3 linked regions of the Homo sapiens genome follow. The protein of the gene in region 3 binds, or shares a complex with, the protein of the main gene of each other region. Links are inferred from orthologs where the notes say so. Each region holds a gene or a part of one and is shown on either strand. Other genes may lie near its edges. The genes, in order: PSTPIP1, CSK and PTPN22.

Region 1 (7,613 bases), on a different chromosome or scaffold from region 3:
GTTCTCCTGCCTCAGCCTCCCAAGTAGCTGGGATTACAGGAGCATGCCATCACGCCTGGCTAATTTTTGTATTTTTAGTAGAGACAGGGTTTCACCATGTTGGCCAGGCTGGTCTTGAACTCCTGACCTCAAGTGATCCATCCACCTTGGCCTCCCAGAGTGCTGGGATTACAGGCGTGAACCACTGCACCCCGCCTAAAAACCAGTCATTTCTAAACAGTGTGCTGGCAGGCTGAAGGGTTTAATGACAGTGCCTTGGGCTGGGGTGGGGGAAGGCCCAGACATGGGCCAAGCTGGCTGGGCTGTTCCTAATATAACACCTGTGGCCAGAGTAGTGTGCCTTTTCTGTTTTACAGATTTGTCTACAAATGAAGCTTCAGAATATTGTTCTAGCCACCTTGTCTGATTTTCTTACCCCTCTGGGAGATAAGAGGGGTTACCTCTTATCTTACCCCGAAGCCAAAAGATCCAGTGATATGTCAGATAGACAGAGGGATCCTGCAACAACACAAGTGCTAAAGCCAGCCTGCCAGGGGTTTAATCCCAGCAGTGTGACCTTGCGCAAGTCTCTTAATATCTCCGTGCCTCAATTTCCTCATCTGAATAAGAGAGATAACAGTAGCATGTGTTTGAAGGATTGAATGAGTGAATATGCATACATCTTGAGAACAGCGCCTGGCACATCTTTCGTGCTCAGCAAATGTTAGTTGTTATGCACTGGGATGGGCTGAGCATCAGGAAGAGGTATTAGAATCCAGAGCCCTGGGGCAGGTGATGCCTACAGTGACCTTTCGGGGCATCGGCCCAGACTCAGTGTGAGAGGTTCCCACTGGCTACTTCTCTCCCCTTCCTGCTCTGGCCTTCCCTAGGGAAACTATATGCCCGCCCCAGGCTCAGGGAGCCAGACACAGAGGAGACAAGGCACTTGGAGGCCAGGAAGCCCAGAGGTGCGACGAGCACAGAGTGTGGGCAGGATGCCGCTCAGGAAGCTCCACAGGGGCTGGCTGCTTGCTTCTGCTGCGGCTGCCATACCCTGCTCCCTTATACGCCACCCCTACCTGTGCCCAGATCCTGCCATGGAGGCTGCTCCTTGCCCAGCTCTGCCCTAGGGAAGGCAGGCCCAGGGGCTCTAGGACTGGACAGAGGTCTCAGTGATAAAATAGTCAAGGGGTCCTGGCCTGCCCTGGGCTACAGAGTGGCCTGGGTTTCCAGGCCCTACCCCTTCCCCCAACTTTGCACACCAAGGCAGGGCAGCTAGGTGGTGACTCACATCCCCCATCCCCCAGGGCTCCAGCTGCCAGCCTGGGCCCTGAGCATCCTGGTGCCTGGTCCTCCGGATGGGCTGAGGCAGCTCTGCCTCCATTGGCTTCTCTGGGCTGGGCCCACCCTGTCTTTGTAGAGATGGGGAAACTGAGGCCCAGAAAGGCACAAGGTGCCCTCCCCACGTGGGGTCCTTTGCCTACTGTACAGTCAGAGCAGAGGAAGCAGAACACTCACACGCTGGCCACAGGCCCCAAGTGGAGCCGGCCGGAAGGGAAGGAAGGCCTGGCTCCATAGCTCTCATCCTCCTGGCTGCAGCCCCAGGAAAAGGCCCGGGGAGGGCAGGGCTGTTGGCTGGGGCTCAGCCGGCTGAGCCGAGGGCCAGAGCGTCCTCTTCGGGGTTGGAGGCAGCACCCCGGGACAGCCACATTCCCCAGCTCCAACCAGAGAGGTCTCAGTTTTTCCCCAGAGCCCTGGGCACAGCCAGAGCTGAGGGGCAGAGGGGTAGTTGAAGGACAGCTGGAAAAGTGCTGAGATGACCAGGGGTCCAAGCTGGGCTGCAGGCTACGTGGCCCGGGCCAAGCCACTTTACCTCTACCACTGGCTGGGCGCCCTTATTTCATGGGGGAAATGACTTGATTTAAGCCCGTGTTGAATTTAAGAAAGTAAGCAAGCCATTGCCCACCTGGCTGCCTCCTTGAAGGACCCCTAAGGTCTGCAAGGGACAAGGGGCTGGGTGAGGGGAACAGAATTACCATTTGGAGTGAGGCAAGGTGCTGGGGGCTTTAGTGCCTTGGATCCCCTTGCTGATCCAATGCTTTAGTTGGTGTGTTGATTTCTATTTTATCACCATTATATAGATGGAGAGACTGAGGCTTGGAGACAGAAATGACTTGCCCAGCCTGTAACAGAGCCAAGACCTGAACTCAAGTTTGTCTGGTCTCTAAATCTGTGACCCCTCCTTTGCTGCCCCACACATCCTCCTCAAGCCCCCACCCATGTGTTACCCTCTTCTGAGGAGCTCCTGCTGTGGGGAGAGGTCTCCCAGAGGAGAAAACACACGGGGCAGCAGAGAGGAGGACGCTCATTCACGGAGTCCACTTGCGTTCCAGTCCAGAAGGGGTGGGGGCCTGGGCCACCTCCATGACAATTAAGACCAAGAATCAACCACTATTTTATGAGAAAGCTCCCCTCTCGGAGCCGCATCCCATCACCTGCATGGAGATTTCAGCCTAGCTCTGCCCCCTCCACTTGTTCAGTGCCCCCAACCATCCTCACTCACCCAAAAGGCATCTTTGAACTGCAGCTGGGGCATCATCCTCAGGCGTCTGCCGCGGCAAAGCTCACTCTCCTGCCACAGGCTGGCCTGATGGAGGGCCAGGCGCCAGCAGCAGCGTCCCAGTCCTGGCAGGGCTGGCCCAGGCCCCCCTTCCCGGCCGGCGCCGTCTGCAACACTCAGAAGGCAGCCACGAGCCAGAGAGGAGCTTCTGAGGGGAGGAAAAAGCTCAACCTGTTTTGTTTGGGGCTAGAATCAGCAGCAAAATGAGGAAGGAGTGGAGCTCAGTGATGGGAGGGCGGGCCCTGGTGTCCAGCCCAGCCCCTCACCGACCCTGCGGTGATGGAGGACACAGTCTGGGACCCAGGGCAGGGAGCAGGGATGCCAGCCCTGGGTGGGAGGCAGTGGCCAGTGGAAGAGGCAGGCTGGAGCTCGGGCCGGGCCAGGCAGGCAGGCAGGCAGGCAGCCCGAGGCCTGCGCAGGAAGGTTTGTGCAACCTCCCCCGGGGCAGGCACAGGGCCCTCGCCCACAGGAAGTGGAGTTGCTGTGCTCCCCTGTGCAGCCCCGCCTGCCACCTGCCATCCTGCTCCTGCCTCTGCTTGCCCCCTCCCGAGGTGCGGGCTCACTTTATTCCAGAGGCCATATGCTAAGGGAGCTTGAGGCCCACTGACAGTGTGGCCAGGAGGGGCCCAGGAACCCCAGGTGTGTCACCCGCCAGCCAGTCCAGCACCCTTCCAGGCTGGGCCCAGAGATGCCAGACTCCCCACCCCGCACTAGCAAGTCATTCTGGAGGGGCTTACCCAGGTCTAGGGCATCTGTCATTCATCAAACCCTGGCTGCTCTGGGACCCAAACCAGGTCCTGCCCTCAAGGAGCCCATAGTCTGGGAGCAGACACAGCTGTGCTCTGGGGGGCTGTGAGCACACAGAGGCAAGGTGAGCAGGCAGCAAGATGAGGGAGAACAGCCTGAGGCCCCGGCACTGCCCCCACCACCACCACCGCCACCACCGCAAGTCTCCAGATTAGACGCTGTTTGGGGCAGAGAACCCCCTTCTGAAGATGGAGGCTTCCGGCTCAGTGAATGGGAATGGATGGAGAGAGAAACAGGATTATCAAGGCACAGAGTGGGGTGTTTGGAAACCCAGTCTGAGGCCCAGTTTTTGTTTAATTTTGACCCCACCTTTCAGGGGCTGAGGGACCTTAATAGACCCCCCAACTCGCTGAGCCTCAGCTTCCTCATCTGCCACACCCAGTCTTTGGAAAGTAGACGGTGTCGAGAATATTTCTGGAATTTCCAGTTTGGTGGGCAGGTGCTGGGGGCACTGTGTGGTACCACCTTAGGAAGAGCCCTGGACTAGAGCCCCAGCCCCAGCCCTGAGACGCCACGCCCTGCCGGCTCAGCAGAAGATGCAGCAGGAAGTCCTGAGCCCAGGGCAGGCTGGCAAAATGGGGTGAGTCAGGGATTGTCCGCAAATCACCACCCTCACTGATGTCTGCCTTACAGCTGACGGGGTGATAAGATGAGAGCTGCTGCAGATGAAATAGTTGAGCTCCCAAGTGCCCATTATGCATGCCCAGGGTTTAGAGAGAGGGGGCACACCCAGGCTCTGAAATAGCCACCCAAGAGGAAACACTTTGGGGAGGATTGCAGAGCAATGGGACTGCCCCCAGAAGGCCCTCACCTCCAGAAACCTTGGATTTGAGCTAATCTTTAATCTGTAAGGCGCCCCAGTCAGGTTTTTTGTTACTTGCAGCTGAAGACAATTAATAGTGTAAAAATCCCCTTGAACTTTGTAGGCCATAGAGTGAGCCAGGCTGCACCTCACCTCCCAATGGCACCACCACCTCTGATAGCACTGGCTCAGCCTCCCTGAGCTCAGTTTCTCCATCCATCAGATGGGATGATGCCTCTAGGTCTGGAGCAGACTAGAGACCCTCTGTTAACAGAAGGCTCCTGCCTGCTTATTGGCAGAAATTTTTACAGCTGGGCTCCCTGCCCTGCCTCTCTAGGTGTCCTTCCCATCACCTCCCAGAGACTTCTGCTCCAGCCAGGCCTCTTCCCTCTCCCTGGAGGCACCTTTCCCACTCCCACCTGCTCTGTTCCCAGCCTCCCTTCTGGCAAGCCTTCCTTGATCTTCCTTACCTGGGCAAATCCTCCCACCCTCAAAGCCAACCTCAAGGCTCCCACACATGAGGCCTTCCTTTCCCAACTGTACCTGTCCAGCCAGGGCAGCCCCGGATGGAGGGCCATGCTGGTGACGGGCTGGAGCAACTGGGGAAGGAAGTAATGTGAGGAACCTCTGGAGAGACTCTGCAATTCTCTACTAGAGAGGCCTTCCTCCTCCCCTCCCTTCCACCCTTACCTGTTGCAGGTCCCCAGGCTGGGCGACCAGACAGCCAATTCGGCTTTGGAGTACTTACCCAGCACCGGGTACATCATTCTGCTTTTCACACGGACCACCTCAGTTACACTGTCATTATCCCCACTTTACAGAGGGGCAAACTAGTGATTAAAGAGTGTAAGTAACGCACCCAAGTAGCAGGCAATAAGCAGAAGGCTGGGCTTTGGTCCTAGATCTGTCCGAAGCCAAAGCACACGCTCTTAACTTCCACAGTTGTCTTTTACTAACAGCCCTCTATTCAAAAAGCGTTTCATTGTTCCTTTCTCCAGTTCTACCTCGAGACCCTCTCACCCAAGTCAATAAAAGGAAAAACAATCTAGGGAAGCCACCGGGGCTGATGGTGCCATAGGAATGAGAGGCCAGCCTTTAGCACATGCTATTCTGCATCACTGTGTTATTCGCATCAGTTGAGGATGCTTTTGGCTGCAAAGAACATAAACCAGAGGGTCTGACACAGAGGACGTGTGCTGTCATCTACACAACGGGGCTGGAGGCAGGGCAGCCTCCAGCTGTGGTACATGAGGGCTTCAGCTCAGTCTCTCTGAGTTTCTCTTGCATTTACGATCTTCCTCCTTGGGCTGGAGGCCAAGGAGCTGCAGCAGCTCATCTACAACTCCAGACACAGCCACAAGCAGAGAAAGAAAAGGACACCTGCCCTTGTGTCTCATTTTCTCCAAAGCCCCTGCACCCTCCCTTCTGCCCAGCTCCCCAGGAGACCTTCCCTTGTGTCTCCTTGGCCCTAGGTGGGTCACGTGCTCATACTTCCCCATGGTTGGCCTTGCGAATGGGCAGCCGGGGATGCCGAAAGCCAACCACGTGACCACCACAACCTTCTCCTCAGCCCAGGCACACAAGCACTGCTGAGCACCAACTCCTGCAGGGTCCTGCTGGGACCGGGGCCTCAAGGGGAGGCAGACTTGGTTTTTGCTCTGAGGGGCCTAGAGACTGACAGACAGGTTCTAGGGAGTTCTTTCTCCATAAGGAGTGGCTCAGAGCGGGTGAGACCAGAAGAAGATATTGTGATGACTTTTACAGGAATGAGGTCTGGTTGGGGCAGGTGCGATGGGGCTTGAGTGGATTGGTGGGATGTCAGGGAGATGGAGGAGCAAGACTGAGATGTCTGAGTGCCCCTCAGAAAAGAGTACTGTCTTAGGGGGCCCCTATTCACACCAGCCCCACCCACACCCAGGCCCAGGCCCTTGGGGAGAGGAATCCATCCCTGAAAATCACCGCTTTTTAGTGACTGTTCCAGCTGCTTCAAAACAATTTGCCTTGAGGTCTGTGCAGTTGTGCCTCAGGCCAGGCTGTGGGGGCATACCCCTCCCAGGCAGAGCCCCTGCCTGTTTTGCCTGGTATCTGAACACATCTGCTTGAAGAATTCAAGAAGCAGTAGCTACAAGGATTGAGAATAAAATGCAAAATCAGTTTTTATAACATTTATTGTCACAGCCCCCACCACTGACTGGCAGGACTCCGCTCCTGAAGACACTTCATCCATCCCTCTGAGCCACAGAAACAACAAAACCAGTAACAACAGCTGCCACAGAAGGAGGATCAATATTTACAGGACCTCCATCACTTTCACAAGCTTGATCTCACTGATTGCTCACTGCCTGGACAGCTACATAATTTGCGAGTCCAGTGCAAAATAAAAATGTGAGACCTCTTACTCAAAAAGCAGGGACAAAATTGCCGTTAAAGGTACTAATCTATAAAACTTGTTTCTTTACTGCAGTCTCTCTCTCAACCTGGAATGGTGTTTTTGATTTGTTATTTAACGTTACACTCCCTTGGGCATGGGAATATCTGTGGGACAACTTGCCCCGCCCCACCCTCTGACTTGACTCAGTTCTGTGTGAAATTCACCAGTTGCTGGACTTCTCCTCCTGTCAGCCACCACGCTGATCTGCATTCTGCGTTCCCCAGCGGAGGTTGGGGAAGTCAAGCCAGGCATTGCCATTTCCCATGGACCTGCCTCACCAACCCACAGCGGACAGGCAGTCCCCAGGGGTGTTGCAAAATCCAGGCCAGGATGCACTAGGAACCAGGGTCAGAAGTGAGTGAGAGGCTCAGCCCCCTGAGTCGCCTGTTGAATTTGCCATGGTGTTGCCAGCCTGGGGCAGGGGCCACATTGCCATGGCCAATCCTCAGATGCTACCAGGTGTGCCCTTGACCCGGACTGTCCCCATGCCTGCACTCAGGTCTCTGCTGGGGGCAGAGTGTGGCAGTGGTTGCTAGGCAGAAGTGGAGAAGACTGAGAACAAGTCCAGGGGAGGCAGTTGGAAGCAGGACCACAGGAGCCAAGGCTCCAAGTCCTTGATGTATGCTTCATTGTCCCACCAGACTGTACTTAAGAAAAGCAAATTCAAAAATAATGTGATTAAGAATTCCAAGACAGCAATCTCAGAGCATTAGACCCCAAGTACAATTTGCTTACACGAGTTGTACATCTATGAAACCAACCCTGCTCACTCCTGTCTGCTCTCTACACAGCAGAGTGACATTTTCAGATCCACATTTGGTCATATCAACGTCCCACTGTCACCTTGCCATGATTTTCCATTACTCTCAGGACAATGGCCATTGCCCTTACATGGCCTACAGACCCTGCATAATTTGGTCCCAGCCTACTCTTCAAAACTTCAACTCCCATTATGCCTCTCTCAATTTCTGATA
Region 2 (7,099 bases), on a different chromosome or scaffold from region 3:
CAGGGGAGATCTCTAGATGCCGATACTGAACACTCCCCATGATAGAGTATGGAAAATGGCAAAACACCAGCTCAAGTCATTGAAGAAAAAGTTGCCAGGGGAGCAGAACAGACACAGCTTCCAAGTCCCATCCCACAGGCTAATTGGAAACAGGAAGGAGCACCTGCACTACAGGGAGACGTGCGGACAACCCCGGAACCAAGTGATCCAGTGAAGCATCACCAGCAAGGTGACGCATGGACACTAAGTGCCTCCTGGAGGAGGACTCTGCATTGCCCGGGGGGGCGTTCCTGCCAGAGCTGTTCCACCTGACTCCAACCAGGGAGAAGCAATCAGACAAATCCAGAACAACTGGCCCGGACTCTTCATGTCAATGTCATAAAAGAGCAAAACAAAAAAAGGGCTGGAGAATGTTCTAGATTGAACAGGACACTAGAGAAACATGACAAGATTCAATAAATGATCTTGAATTGAATTCTATATCAAGGGGTGGTCGGGGGGACAGCTATAAAAATCACTTGGGGAGAGGGGAAATGGACATAGTAGATAATATGGAATTAATGTCAATTTTCTTAAGTGTGATCATGACATTGTGATTATATAAGAGATACACGCTAAAGTTCTTAGGGTGAAAGATGCAATGCCTACAACTAACACTCAAATCAGCAAAAAATACATACACACATATGTCTATGTAGATAAAAGAAGAGATAGAGTAAATGTGGCAAAATGTTAAGAACTGGCAAATCTGCATGAAGGATATATGAATATTCATTATACTATTACTTCAACTTTTTGGTAGGTTTCAAATACTCAAAATAAAAGGCTGTGAAAAAAAAAGCCAGGTGCAGGTTCTCTATGGAATACTACAAGTTGTGTTTTTAAAGAGGTATTAATGCAACACCTCCCTAAACTCAAATATGCCTCGATTATCTTTGGAAAGACAGAGGAAACTGGTAACAGAGGTTGCCTCTAGGATGAGAAGGGAAAGTGAGATCAAGTTCAAGAGAAACTTACTTTTTACTGTTCATTTGCTATTTTGTCCTTTTGGGCTTTTAAAAAAATTATTATTATTTTTTTAAAGCCACATGCATCTATTACCTTCCCCCTTAAAACTGGAAATAAGAAACTTTTTGTAAATCACCTCTCTCTGGAGAATTCCTTGGGTCCCCAGCTGTGTTGGCTGCCGAGGCCTCCAAGGCCTCTCACACATCCCCGTGCTCCAGTGAGAACCTCACTGGTTGTGGCCTGTGGTTTAGGGTGGACTGGGAGCTCTGCAGGGGGAAAGTGAGGGTCTGACTCACGTCTGCATGGGCTGGGCCCAAAGCGGCTGCTCAGTAAATGAGTGCTGAATGAATGAATGAATGAACGAATGAAAAAAAGGGGACGCCAGGCTGGCTGTACCACACCGAGGTCTCATAACCAATAGGACTATAGTTAACCCCAAAGGGACAGCAGCTGTCACCCCATTCCCGCAGGGCTAGGGGACAAGGGGCTTGGGATGTGGCAGGACCAGTGCTTCACTCTGACTTCCTGCCCTAAACCCGGCTCCCAGCAGCCCTTGTGCTGGGGTCCCGGGAACAGGCTGGCATTGTGCCCAAGCGCTGAGGTCAGTGGCTGCAGCCTCAGGCAGCCTTTCTTGTGAGCCCAGGCTGACAAGGAGTGGGGAGAAAGAACTGGGAGCCCAGAAACTCCCAGGCTGCCCTTTTCCTACCCTGGAAGCAGCTGTAGACCCCCAAGGCCAGGCACGTGCTGAGGGCCAGGGGAGGTCAAGGGGCTCCCTTGCCCTTCCCCCTTGCCAAAACTCTGCTGCCTAATGGGGCGTGGGAGCCTTCAGTAACTGTTTACGCCCAGCTAAAAATACCCACTGAAAAGGGAAGTGCACAAAAGACCTGGGGGAACTCAGGGCCCTGGCCCCCGGAGATTCTGGTGCTGCCACAGGACCTAGCTGGATGCTCTGGGGGATGGGGACAGCCACTGGAGGCAAAACAGGCAACAGCAAGGTCCACCTTGCCTTCTCATTCTTTGAGCCAGTGTTTTAGAAGCCTTCCTGTGTGCCCAGAGCCATGCTTGGTAGGCCAGGATATCCGGGTGGAGAAGGAAAGGACTCAAGAGGTCCTGCCTTTGGGGACCCAAGGTCACCACTCACACACCTCTCCTCTGTGCACAAGCCAGGGCTGGATGCTGGGAACCACCACAAAATGCAGACCCGGCTCCTGTCCTCCTGGTTACTGGATGGTCAGCCATGGCCTGGTATGTTCAGTGCCTCAATAGATTGTGAGACAGGGGCCACCCGGGAAGGCTTCCAGGAAGATGGGTGAGGGGAGCAGGAGCTAGAAGGATTTTAGGGGAAAGTGACTGAGAGAGGGGCGCCTTGAAGTAAACCAGGATTAAGACTGCAAACTGTGGTACAGAGCGAGTTAATGAAGACTGAAGAAGGTTCAGGATGGGGGCCCAGGGAACCTCCGAGCAGGGCCTACAGGTCATAGTACAGATACAGGCAGAATTAAGTTTCAGATTTGGGCCCGCCCCTCCAAAGGGCAGTGCACCTGAGGAGGGCGGGGCACCCACCAGCAGTTGGGCAAGTTTGGCAGCAATAAAATCAGCTCCACCTCTGGTTCTGCAGAGGACACCAGGCTGAGGCACTGTGACATTCCCCACCACACATCAGGCAAGGAAGGGTGCCCGAGGGCTTCCACTGACCCCCGCAGCCTGCGCTGGTGGTCCCTCAGCACCCCCACTGCACAGGTGTCTCAGGGTGAGCAGCAGCAGAATTGGGCGCCAGGGTCTTGGAGATGCCTACACCTCCCGGGGCGGTTACGAAGGAACAGAAGAATGCCTGCTCTGGCTCCAGGGCACGCTGCCCTACCCCCATCCCGGGGCTCCCGTCAGCACCCTGACCTAAGGAGAAGGGCGGATTTAATGGATAAATACCAAATTATAGCAACACACTGGCTTTTTTTCCCCTGCCCCCAATGGTTCAGTGGGACCGGAAATCCCGTCTAGTGGTTTGGGAGAGGTGGGGGCTGGGGTTAGAGCAGGCTAATGGGGAGCCTACTCCCCAGGCACCGCTGCGGCTTGAGGCTGCCATTCCTGGCCCAGAAAGGTTTCTAATTACCGCTCAGGAGCCTAATTACCTATGTGCGCTGGGCAATGGGGACTCTGGGCCTCCCCAGGGCCCTAACCCAGGCCTCTGCTCCCCCACCCCCTTAGCACAGGATGTGGTCTTTGCATCTTCATTTGCCTGCATTTGCATATAGCCTCTCAGCACTAGCCTTCAATGGACCCTTCAAAGTCATGTTCTTGTCCCTCACCCGGAAGTCTCCTGGCCACATTCTAGGTGGGGAGACTGACGGCTGGAGGCCCATAAGCTGTCTAAAACTTCGGCCCCCAGATTTCTGGTCTCCCCACTTCAGAACCAGGATCTGCAGAACACACAGCTCAGAAGGTAAAGCTGTGGGGATCAACACAAAGGACAGACTTGCTACTACTTAAGGGAGATGGGGGTGTTACCAGTACACTCCTCCAGCAGGATGGGCTGCAGAATGAGAACACGGGAATTACAGCTGACTGACCCAACCGGGTTTGGGGCACTGCATTAGTTACTTAATCCTTCAAACACCCCATAGGGCAAGGACTGGTGATCTCTGACAGAGGAGGAACTAGCTGTGTGGGTACTTGAGCTCAGAGTTGTCTGAACCTTGGTTAGGGGACCTTTCTTCCCACCTTTCCTTGTGCAGGACAGACGACACCCTGAAAATGGACAGGTGGGGGGCACCGAGGGGAGGTCTGCCCAGAGCTTGGCTGTTCTGCTCTGGGAAGCAGAGGTACTTCTGTGCCCACTTCTTGCTTGTCTGCATACCCCAGCCTCTCAGAGAGGCCAAGAGCCTGTCGAGGGACACACAGAAAAGAGCCAGCAGCCCTAGAGAGGGCAGAAGCTTCAAACAAGGACCTCTCCTCCTACCACGCTTCTTCTTCAAACACTTCTCAACTTTCACAGGACCTTCCCCTCCAGGAGGCCCTCCAGGCTGCCCCAGCCCACGCAGAGCCCCAGCTTCAGAGCTCCTACCAGCTCTGCCAGGAAGTGAGAACCACAGGCCTCCCCTCACTGACTCCTCGTCTCCTCTACCCGCCAGCAGAGGCGCTCTCAGGGTTTGCTCTTCATCCTTCCCTCCTGTCTCCCTGCAGCACGGACAGCACAAGCTGCAGATAGATAGATGCGCGAGTCTGCATGAGGACCAGGTGTCAGGCTGGGCTGAGAAGCAGCAGCCAGGGTCCAAGGGGGGCAGATGATGCCCAGGTTTTCGCCTGCCCACGAGGCTTACAACCATGCCATGATCAGGACAGCCAGGGGGGCACCAAGCAGCCTCTCTTCTACTTGTTCCTTCGACTCTGGGCCCAGACCACAGAAGGAGGGGTGGAGGGAAGCTGCGGTTGGAGGGTGTGTGCACAGCTAGTGTGTGATGAGAAGCTGACTTCATCTTAGCACCTCAAAACCAGGAAGAGAAACTGAGCAGGCAGAAAGGGCAGGCTGGGCTGCACAGGGCCCTCCAGTCCCTGGGGGCCTGCTGAGGGGAGCTCTCAAATAGTCGCTTGACAAACCACTTCTCCTTTCTGGGCCTCAGTTTCCCCATGGGAAAAATGGGATTTTTTTTCTAATGGGTCCTGCCAGTCTGCCCTGAGTGGTGCCGTCTACACTTAATGGGCCACATCATGGCAGATAAAAGAGCACCCCCCCAACTGGTGGAGTACTTCTGATCCCGAGGAGCAGGGGCTCAGCCACCCAAAGCCAGCCTCTCCCTGCTCACTTCTCCCCTCAGCCATGCAGGGAGCACCAGCTCTTCCTTCACCAGCTCTTTATTTTTAGGTCTGAATTTGACTTTAATCATTACTTAGCGGATTCTATTTCCAGCCCTTGGATGAAGGGACCCAGAGGAGAGGGGGAAGGGAGGCAGTGCTCCCTGCCGGGCGTTGGGGGTGGCCTGCTCCTCCACCCATCCTGTCCCCAACCAAGGGCGGGGGAAACTGAGAAACACCCAAAGGGCTCTCATCTGAGCCAGGCCAGGCCAGCATCTTGGGGCGGACCCCACCCTGTGACCTCATCCCATCCCAAGCTGTGGGACAGGAGGGCAGTTGTCATGCCCACTTCCCTTACACTAAGACCAGGGAGGAGGAGATACTCCACAGGCCAAAGTTTGGCAGCTGGAGTCTGAAGTCGTGTGCCCAAGGGACCTCTGCACTGAATGGGCCACCTGGGGGAGGACCCCTTCCTTAGGTTAGTCCTGGGCCACCCTAGGGTCATCTGGGGCTACAGTCTCTTAGGCCCAGGGTTGCCAGGAGGAGACTGGTGTCCTGCTACTGCCCACGGGGTGGCTGTAGGAGGGCACTCCCAGTTACCCTGGTCTCCACAAAAGTAGAACAAGAGGAAGCAGGTGTGTCACAGTGATACACACTCAGGTTAGACCTGGGGAACACCTGCTGAGGAGGGGGAGGCTAACATGAGTTTCCCGATGTGTCCAACTCCCTCCTGGGAAGCTCTGGGAGGCTCCAGAATCCCCCTACCCTTAATCTCCCAGCTTCTTTCCCTTCCTTGGCTACTGGAACAGGGTGCGAAGATGAGGCTGGCATGGCTGTTCTTGGGCTGGGGCTCAGGATGCCTGGGTTCCTTGTCTAAGTCTCAGGCTAAGCAGGCCTCTATTTCCTCTGGGAAAATGCCAAGCTGGGCTGACCTAGCCAGAGCTGGGAGGCAGGAGGCAGCCAGGCTCTTACAGAAGAGGCGCAGTGGCTCACGCCTATAATCCCAGCACTTCAGGAGGCCGAGGTGGGTGGATCACCTGAGGTCAGGAGTTTGAGACCAGCCTGACCAACACGGAGAAACCCCATCGCTACTAAAAATACAAAATTAGCCAGGCGTGATGGCACATGCCTCTAATCCCAACTTGGAAGGCTGAGGCAGGAGAATCGCTTAAACCGGGAGCCGGAGGTTGTGGTGAGCCAAGATCGCGCCATTGCACTCCAGACTGGGCAACAAGAGCAAAACTCCATCTCACACACACACACACACACACACACACACAAAAAAAAAAAAGAGAGAGAGAGAGAGAGAAGAGGCCTTGTCTATTTAGCTCTGATGCTGGGAGACCGGAAGGGGAATGGGTGGAGTCAGGTCCCGGACCCTAACCAGCAGCCCATCTTCCCAGGGCCAGCCCCATGTCCTAGGCCAGCCAATCATATGGTAATGGGGAGAAGGGAAGGCAGGCAAGGGCACTGGCCATAGTATTCTAGAACCTCAGGGCCAGGGGGTTTCACAGGGGCTCCTCAGGCGGAGACCACCTCTTTGCCAGGTGAGTGGTCAGTCAACATTGGCCCGTGGCTCAGGCACCTTCCCCACAGGTTGAGGCAGCCAGCAGTGGGCACTCCTTCAACAATGCCAATCCTACTCACAGAGGGAGTGAAGAAAGGGCTGTGCCAGGCACTTTAGAGTCCCTTGGTTAGTTAGTTGACACTGTCCTTACACCTTCCTCTGAAGTAGGTGTTACCATCCTGTTATTTATATCAACGAGGCTCAGCAGGTCAGTGACCTGTCTAAGGTCCCTCTACCCTGGGCCTAAGTGGCATGTCTGGGCCTGGAACCCACATTCAGTTGGGTGCCAAGTTGCTTGTGCCCTCCAACACCCTGGCTGCTTTTGGGACTCATAGTAACGACAACCACAACAGCAACAGAGGGGAAAAATGCACACGCTCCAGTGTATGGGTGATGGCGCTGCAGCAGGCCAGCCTAGAATGTTCTGTAGCTTTTTAGAAGCAACGTTACTTAGACCGCGTAGCACCATGAGAAAATGCCCACAGACGCAGTATTAAATGAAAAAAGGTGTCACGGCACACACACTCCAGTGACAACGACAATGAAGGAAAAGGATGGGGAAAAGACTGGCAGTGAACTCCAAAATGCTAACACAGTCACTGCCTGCTGAAGAAATAGTGGGTGATTTTTGTTTCATTTTCTAAATTTCCTGTAGCGCTGTTTTGTTATTTTCTAAATCAAGAAAATGAGTACATTCATGGTTTCCCTATAATGAGCTCAGATTCACTTCCCTGG
Region 3 (7,964 bases):
ACACTTAATCACTACCCAAAAACAAGGTCCTTAAAATCAGGAGCTAGAAAAGCAAGGAAGTGATTAATATAAAAGTCAGGATAGTGATTATCCCTTGGCCAGGGTAGGACAGGACAGGGGCAGATGGGTGTAGGGGACCTGATGGGGCATGGGTCTTCGGGGGTCTGACAGTTTCTTGACTTGGGTAGTGGTTGCACTGCTAATGGTTGCTTTATAATTATACTTAAATGTTTTATGTACTTTTCTAAATGTGTATTATATTGCACAATATTAAGCAGCTAAAAAAAACTATAACAAGTTTTTAAGCAGGGAAAAAATGACCAGATTTGGCTGGGCGTGGTGGCTCATGCCTATAATCCTAGTACTTTGGGAGGCTGAGGCGAGTGGATTACCTGGTTGGACAGACCAGCCTGGCCAACATGGTGGAACCTTGTCTCTACTAAAAATACAAAATTAGCCAGGCGTGGTGGCTCATGCCTGTAATCCCAGCTACTTGGGAGGCTGAGGCAGGAAAATCGCTTGAACCAGGGAGGTGGAGGCTGCAGTGAGCCGAGATGGTGTCATTGCATTCCAGCCTGGGTGACAAGAGCAAAACTTTGTCGCCCCCAAAAAAAAGACCAGATTTGTATGATTAAAAGATCACTTGGGTGTTGAACTGAAAATTGACTGAAGGTGGGGCAAGGCTAGAGGCAGAGAAGCCAGTTAGGAGGTAGCTGCTATATTTTGGTGAGAAATTATAATGACTTTAGCTGAGAAAAGGTAAAATATTAGGGATATAGTCTACATTTTTTTTTTTTTGAGACAGAAGTTCGCTCTTGTTGTCCAGGCTGGAGTGCAACAGCTCTATCTCAGTTCACTGCAACCTCTGCCTCCCGAGTTTAAGCGATTCTCCTGTGTCAACCTCTTGAGTAGCTAGGATTACAGGTGCCTGCCACCACGCCCAGCTAATTTTTGTATTTTTAGTAGAAATGGGGTTTCATTATGTTGGCCAGGATGGTCTCAAACTCCTGACCTCAGGTGATCCACCCGCCTCGGCCTCCCAAAGTGCTGGGTTTACAGGTGTGAGCCACTGCCCCCGGCCAGTCTACATTATTTTAAAAAACACAACCAAAATAAAACAGAGGCCGGCACTGCCCCTCAGCTCACTTTTTACATCTATGCCTTGGGTTACCTTGGCTTAGGAATTATAGTCCAGGGGCAGGGACATGTATACACATGTGCTAGAACTTCCTACTTATCTCCTTTCAGGTAACTCTACCAGAGGGGCTCAGACTGATCAGCCAGTGGCAGTGAGAGCACATTTTTCATAGTACCACAAGATTATCCATGTTGAGCTGACATCGGAGTTCCTATCATAATATCTAATCACTCAATAATATCTAATTACTCAAGACTTTCAGAGTGTTTTCACATCTGCTATCCGGTACCAGAGTGTTAGCTCCAGGAGGCAAAGGTTTTGGTTCTTTTTGTTCACCGCTGTATTTTTAGTGCTTAGAACTGAACTTGGTACATACTAAGTGCTCAATAAATGGTACTCAATAAATGACCACATTTAATGATTGTTATTGATATTTAATCATCACAACAATCCTGTGAGGATAGGTAGGACATGTATTATTATCCCCATTTTATAAGTTAGAAAACAGAGAGATTTAAGAACATGTCAAATACTTCATAATTTGGTGAAAAAAAATCATGATTTAATTTCAGGTTTGTACTTCAGTTCCCCTCTTTCCACCCATTTCTTCACAACTGAAGAGCTAAGGTTTAAAATTCTTATATCTCTGAAACGCCAGCTGTAAGCATTCTAAAATACATGATAGGTACTATTAGACACCCTATGTTATCTGATATCTCAGCTTGTAGGGTGAATGAGGCCTACCCAGCTGCCATTGCATCAATAATCACAGTTCTCTCAAAGGAGATTCACTGTTCTTCTGGGTAATCTAATCCACCCAACCTGAAGCTACCTTGTACTCATGTTTCTCTCCTTGACCTACACTTGTCTCTACTCTCCATCCTAGCCATTCCACTTCTCCAAGCAAAAGAAGTTAAGGAAGCCCTGTTATTGAAAAAACACATGTTATAATATATTTTTCATATGAAAAAGAAAAGAAAAATGATGGCCAGACATAGTGGTTCATGCCTGTAATCCCAGCACTTTGGGAGGCAAGATGGGAGGATTGCTTGAAGCCAGGAGTTCGAGACAAGCCTGGGCAAAAAAGCAAGGCTCGTATCTACAAAAAAGAAAAAAACAATTTTTTTTTAAATTAGCCAGGCATGGCGATACACACCTGTGGCCCCAGCTACTCAGGAGGCTGAGGCAAGAGAATCACTTGAGGCCAGGAGTTCAAGGCTACAGTGAGCTGTGGTTGCACTGCTGCACTCCAGCCTGGGTGACAGAGTAAGATTCTGAATCTTAAAAAAACAAACAACAACAACAAAAAAAACTGTGGCAGTGGGTAGTTTTGGTGCTCTTCAAAAACCTTTGTCAACCAAATAGAATCCCAGAGGGGAGGCTAAAAATGTAATATTGCATGAAAAGTTAACATTGGTCTCTTTCTTCTTAATATTAATTAAAATTAGTAATATAAAGCATAAACCACAACTTAGATACCTGGGGAAATCTGGATGTTCAATTAATATTAGTGTTTTTACATCTGGAGTTGTATATGTCTTCTGTAGGATTCCTAACCAAACTCCAAAGAACTAGCAAACAAAATATTAAAACCAGTAATTTTGAGAGAATACCTGAAATACATGCAAACCACTCAGAGAAGTCAAACTTTTTTTTTTCTGTCTTCCCCGCCAAGGTCTCATATTTACTTTATCCCAAGAGCAATTTGGTCTCGGAAAATTGGACCCCCATAGTCAGTTAAATAGTGTATGTAACTACCCTGAGAGGGTCACATACAGGACTCACCAGAAATTCATTGGCAAACTCCTCTTTAGTAATTTTCTTGCTTTGGGCCTCATCCAGGAACTTCTGCAGAATTTCTCTTTGGTCCATGCTGCAGAGCAAGAAAAATAGTCTATAAGTAGGTTGAGGGAGGGCATGTCAAATGTGTGTCATGGCCGAGACACCTCCAAAAAGCCACTGCTGCCGCCTGAGCAGAGCATGCTGAAGGCTGTGGTTTACTGACTTCATCACAAGCCCTAGAGGAAATTAGTACGTAACCACCTTCTGTGGTCACATAACACAGCCATCATCTCACTCCAGGGCCCTAGTGCCTTCCTTCTCAGCAAAGGAACCTGGTTACAATTCAAATTTTTAACAAACAAGAGGCTAACTAGAACGTAAAGTGTGGTCTGCTTAACTGAGATTATTCCATTCCATCACCCATATGCAAAACTCACCTTTCTTCTTGCCTCCCAGAGAAAGAACAGAATTACAGGTCTCCTGAATGAGTTCTGTCTCTCCCCATTTTCCCAGTGAGCACAAGGGCCAAGTTGACACCTTCTGTTTCCTTATGTCCCAAATGAACTCTGCAAAGTTCAGTTAGGCCCAGGAAAGAAGACAGACACTGTTTAGAGTGAGTGACATGTCTTCTACCCGGACTGTTCATCGAAAGGTTTCTTGTCAGTGTGATCAATGAGAAACTTCTGTTCATCACAGAAGGTATTTTTATTCATAACTTTTAAGTCTGCTATATATACCTCAAACTCCCTTTTGAATGAAGCAAAGTCAGATGCTTCTGACAGTCTGTGTCTCTCCCAGGACTGGGGAAGTGCTGACCTCCATTAAGGGAAGTGTTGATTTCAGCACCTCTTCAACCCTCCCAGTAACCTTTGAAGCTTCACTTGGGTTCTGGATATAAAGACTAAGAGTGTTGGTCTATATAGGATCTAGAGCAAGTGGCCCCCACAAGGAGCACCTGACCAGACAGTTAGCTCAATACCCTGCATATGTAATGCTGGTAAACTGTGATGGAACAAAAAGAAAGTAAAATCAACCACCTTGCTGACAACATTGTAACTTTTAGGGCAGAAAGCCTGAAGAACTGTTTCTAAAGAACACATTTCTACTCTGCAACCAATGTCTTAGGAAATAAATTTGTTTCAGGAAGTTATGCTGTGCCTGTGGCATTTTGGCCCTGAAAGGCAGGCTCTTCTAGAAAAACTTTCCACATTTGAGCTTGCATAACCTCTCAATGGGTACAAGTCTACCCAAGTGCCTAATTCAGTGTGAGAACATCCAAAAATCAGTATATCATCTTTATTGAAGGCAGAAGTTCAACAAATGTTAACAAAATTAGTCTTGATCCTGAAGAAAACTGGGAAATGTGTTGTTAGGACTTCCTCTATTTAAGATATTAGCAATCCTTTCTGTTTTGCAACATTATTCAAACTTCCTTCAGGATATCATGATTCTGAACACTGCTTAATCTGAACATTAAAGATACTGCATGCTCTTTACTAAGTACTGCAAAAAAAAAAGAAAGATCATCGAGATATCTTGGTTATAGACAACTTAAAGACAATATTTCAAATTAAGAAACTCAATCCCAGTATACATAAATTAAAATAAACCCTCATTCTTCAGCAATATTTGTTAGGAATAGTATATTTCTTAAATTATCCCCATCTAGAATTAAGAGAGAATTTCTTGCTGCTCTAAGTAACGTGATGTTTACTTTGGCTATTTTAAAACATAAAATATGGGAAATCTTTGATTTATAAAAATACAAAATTTCAAGTTTGTAATAACTAAAACCATGTAAAAGTGTGTACATAGTTAAAGACTAAAAGAAGCAAAAAAGAATCAATTGTGTAAGTTTGCTTTCTAAAATTATCATAATTTTAGAATTATGATAAAGTTTGCTTTCTAAAATTATCATACCGTTTTTAAAATTAGAAATAAACATTTAAAAATCCATTAAGTTGTTCAACAAATTTATTGAGTACCCACTAAATTCTAAACATTGTCTTAGGAGATTGGCATACAACACTGAGAAAGCCAGAATATGGTAAAAACAAAACAAAACAAAACAAAAACATCCTTAGCCAGTTAATAAAGCAACTCAGAACTAAAGATACAGACATGATTACTGATAAAAATTAAAACACTCCTTAGGTAACTTTGGGAAAGAAAATAAAAATAAAAACATTCCAAACTAACTTGCTTAATTGCAGAGTAGCAAAGCATAATCCTAAAAGGAAAATGATTTTCTATGTTTGGACAAAGAAGATAATATAGTTTTATAATTTCTCTGTACCCTTAGAATGTCCTCAATTACACAAAACTAGAACTTTATTAATTTTTATTAATTGATGAGGCAAACCTGCCTAATAAAATTTAAATCTATTTTTCTCAAGCCTATATTTCAGCACAATCTCTTACTAACTTTCTTGTTTCTTCTTAATGAGGGAGAAGACAGAAATAAATAGGAGATAACAAAAAAAATTTTGCTTAGATGCCTCCATAGTCCCTTTCCTCAAAATCTAAGAATCTGTAAATAGTGTCTTGGCAGAACTTCACACTTTTTTAAAAAAGCAAGCAGCAATCTATTCTACTGTAAACCCAAAAGGTATAGAGACATTGTGAAATAACCAAACCCCCAAAACCCACTTAGCTACAAGGCCATTTCCTGAGCAGACCACTCAAGCAAGCAAAAAACAAACTGAAGAAGAAAACAAAAAACTTTAATTATTTTTTTTGTTTTGGGTTTTTTTGTTTGTTTGTTTGTTTTGTTTTGAGACAGGGTCTTGCTATGTTACCCAGACTAGTCTGGAACTCCTGGGCTCAAGTGATCCTTCCACTTCAGACTTCCAAGTAGCTGGAGCTATTATTTTTTTTTTAAAAAAATAAGCTACTACTTAATTTATCACACTTCCTTCTACAGAGCACAATGCTTTTTGATGAAGATTGTGTTGACTCATTTGTATCTTGCGGGAAGATAAAGAGCTGGGGAGGGGAAACAAGACATGCAGTAAAGGTTGGCAAATACCTAAAAGAGTTTCAGAATTTATGATGAATCATTTAAACCAGTCTGGCATAAAACCTAAGTGAACACAATTCCATGCAATAAAAAAAGACTCACAAACATTTTGCCAGAACCATCAAGTAAATTGTGGGAAGTAAATTGTGGATAAGCACCTGAAGAGGAGTGACAAGGCCACATCTCACTGCTGCCTCATGTGGCTGTAGTGCTTGGTCAGAAGGAAGAACACAACAGAGAAGAGTGCTGGTCACCATGTCACCTGTTCCAAGAAGAGGGGAGTATGCTAGTTTAAGGGGAAATATCAGTATCACAGAGGTCAGGAATTAGATTACAATAAACATTAATTGAGGAGAATTTCAGGGAAGACTACAAGGGTAAGATAAACTATTCAATAGGAAAAACATTCAGGATTCTCAGAACATCCTTCTGTCTTTTAGATGAGGGGGAGACATGTTTTACCCTGGAGAAGATACTTACCCAACCTTAGCTTTAGTTTCACTACTCTTGCCTTTCCCTACATTCCAGGGTCATTGATTTGATATGGGATATATATACTGTCTGTGAAACATTCAGTCCTTTGTAAGCATTCTTTTGATCACCAAGGCCTATTGGAAATTTCTCCTCAATGTCTTTTAGATTCAACCTGTCTTTTCCATTCCCACTTAGCCCCATTCCCACTTTCACACCCGGATTCCTATAGCAATAAACTTAGAGTATCTTCCTATCTATATGTTTCCATTCTAGTATCTCCTGTTAACCAAGGCTGGATGAAAGTTCTTAAAACTGCACTTTAATGCTAAAGAATCAGAATAGTTATTGATGATCTACGGGAACAAGTCCAGATTCCTTAGCTTGTCACCAAGCCCCTCCCTGTCAACTATCCCCACCCAACCTATCCAAGCACATCACCTACAGACCTCGTTCGTTCTACTACCACTTTTTTCTACTTCTCACCTTTACCCCTAAGTTTCACCACAATGAAAATAAAACCATAAAGCTCAATTTTTCTTCAAAAATCTTGCCCCTAACTCTGTTTCGCCATGATCTTCCCTTAGTCTGAATCTCTTCAATATAAATCTGTATATTCAGCTATAGAAGTTTTCATTTATTCAATTTCCTTGTCTCCTATAAGTTTATTTAAGAGTTTATTCAAAAGATGTCCCCTGTATTTTCAGATTTATCAAAGGCAATGATAGTGTATTCTATGCGTTTGTATAACCCACAGTGCTTAACATGGTCTTGAGTATACCTAAAAATAAGTCTGTTGTGATAAAGTAGCTAATGTGGTTACGCTTTGGTGAGGGATCTACTCTCACTTGGTTACTCATTATATCAATTACTCCAAGTCTCTTGTCTGGCACAGTCTGTGCTTCTTGTCTCTAGCTAGGCACTTTCATTATGCCAGGAGCAGATGGGCCTTCCTACATGGAGGCACAGGAACCTGGCAAAGGGTACTTTCCTGAATGCTGCTGCCCAAGCAGCAGGGCTATTATTATGAAAGGAATGGTGTCAATACTGAGCTTCAGAGTCCATCTCTGAAGAACTGCAATGGCCAGAAATAAATGACCTCCTTTATCTCTAGAGTAGGCTTGTTTTTCCTTTTATAAATGAACACAGAAGAGGCTTATAAAATACCTTTAACGAAGCTTGTTTGATTTTCTCATGTTTTCACATCATCCCGGGTAGGAAAAGTCCCCCTACCCATCTTTCAATCTACTGCTTGTCACTACAGCATTCTGAGACTTCACTAAGTCCTTCAGTTCACCTGCTGCAGACTTCATAGTCAACCTCCCACTACACAGGGAAGCATACTCTGCCTTTGGTTTCAAAATCCTCAAGAAGCAAAGGTCAACCAATAACTTGCAATTGAAGTTTTTTTTTTTTTTTTGGAGACAGAGTTTTGCTGTTGTCACCCAGGCTGGTGTGCAATGGTGCTATCTCGGCTCACTGCAACCTCCGCCTCCTGGGTTCAAGCAATTCTTCTGCGTCAGCCTCCTGAGTGGCTGGGATGACAGGCATGTG

What was found.
Region 1: the proteins of PTPN22 (region 3) and PSTPIP1 are in contact, whole or in part, in a crystal structure (PDB 7AAM), measured with the Homo sapiens proteins. Residues at the interface, in NP_057051.4 of Homo sapiens: Ser793, Lys794, Pro795, Gly797, Pro798, Arg799, Asn800, Pro801, Pro802, Trp805, Asn806; in NP_003969.2 of Homo sapiens: Thr225, Arg228, Asn229, Trp232, Asn236, Ser239, Met240, Cys242, Val243, Asp246.
Region 2: the proteins of PTPN22 (region 3) and CSK are in contact, whole or in part, in an NMR structure (PDB 1JEG), measured with the Mus musculus proteins. The link is inferred for Homo sapiens from one-to-one orthologs. Residues at the interface, in NP_033005.1 of Mus musculus: Pro614, Pro615, Leu616, Pro617, Glu618, Arg619, Thr620, Glu622, Ser623, Phe624, Ile625, Val626, Val627; in NP_001291690.1 of Mus musculus: Phe20, Thr23, Gln26, Ala40, Val41, Thr42, Lys43, Asp44, Asn46, Trp47, Ile59, Pro61, Asn63, Tyr64.

What each region holds. Positions count from the first base shown.
Region 1 is NC_000015.10:76,990,539-76,998,151, reverse strand, and holds the start of PSTPIP1 (proline-serine-threonine phosphatase-interacting protein 1), read right to left. Parts: upstream 3,027-7,613; 5' UTR 2,748-3,026; coding exon of another isoform or gene 2,579-2,747; coding exon 2,543-2,578; intron 1-2,542. UniProt on the Homo sapiens protein: Involved in regulation of the actin cytoskeleton. May regulate WAS actin-bundling activity. Bridges the interaction between ABL1 and PTPN18 leading to ABL1 dephosphorylation.
Region 2 is NC_000015.10:74,784,992-74,792,090, reverse strand, and holds part of CSK (tyrosine-protein kinase CSK), read right to left. Parts: intron 3,548-7,099; exon of another isoform or gene 3,514-3,547; intron 3,420-3,513; exon of another isoform or gene 3,334-3,419; intron 1,275-3,333; exon of another isoform or gene 1,145-1,274; intron 1-1,144. UniProt on the Homo sapiens protein: Non-receptor tyrosine-protein kinase that plays an important role in the regulation of cell growth, differentiation, migration and immune response.
Region 3 is NC_000001.11:113,868,614-113,876,577, forward strand, and holds the start of PTPN22 (tyrosine-protein phosphatase non-receptor type 22), read right to left. Parts: upstream 3,100-7,964; 5' UTR 3,011-3,099; coding exon 2,924-3,010; intron 1-2,923. UniProt on the Homo sapiens protein: Acts as a negative regulator of T-cell receptor (TCR) signaling by direct dephosphorylation of the Src family kinases LCK and FYN, ITAMs of the TCRz/CD3 complex, as well as ZAP70, VAV, VCP and other key signaling molecules.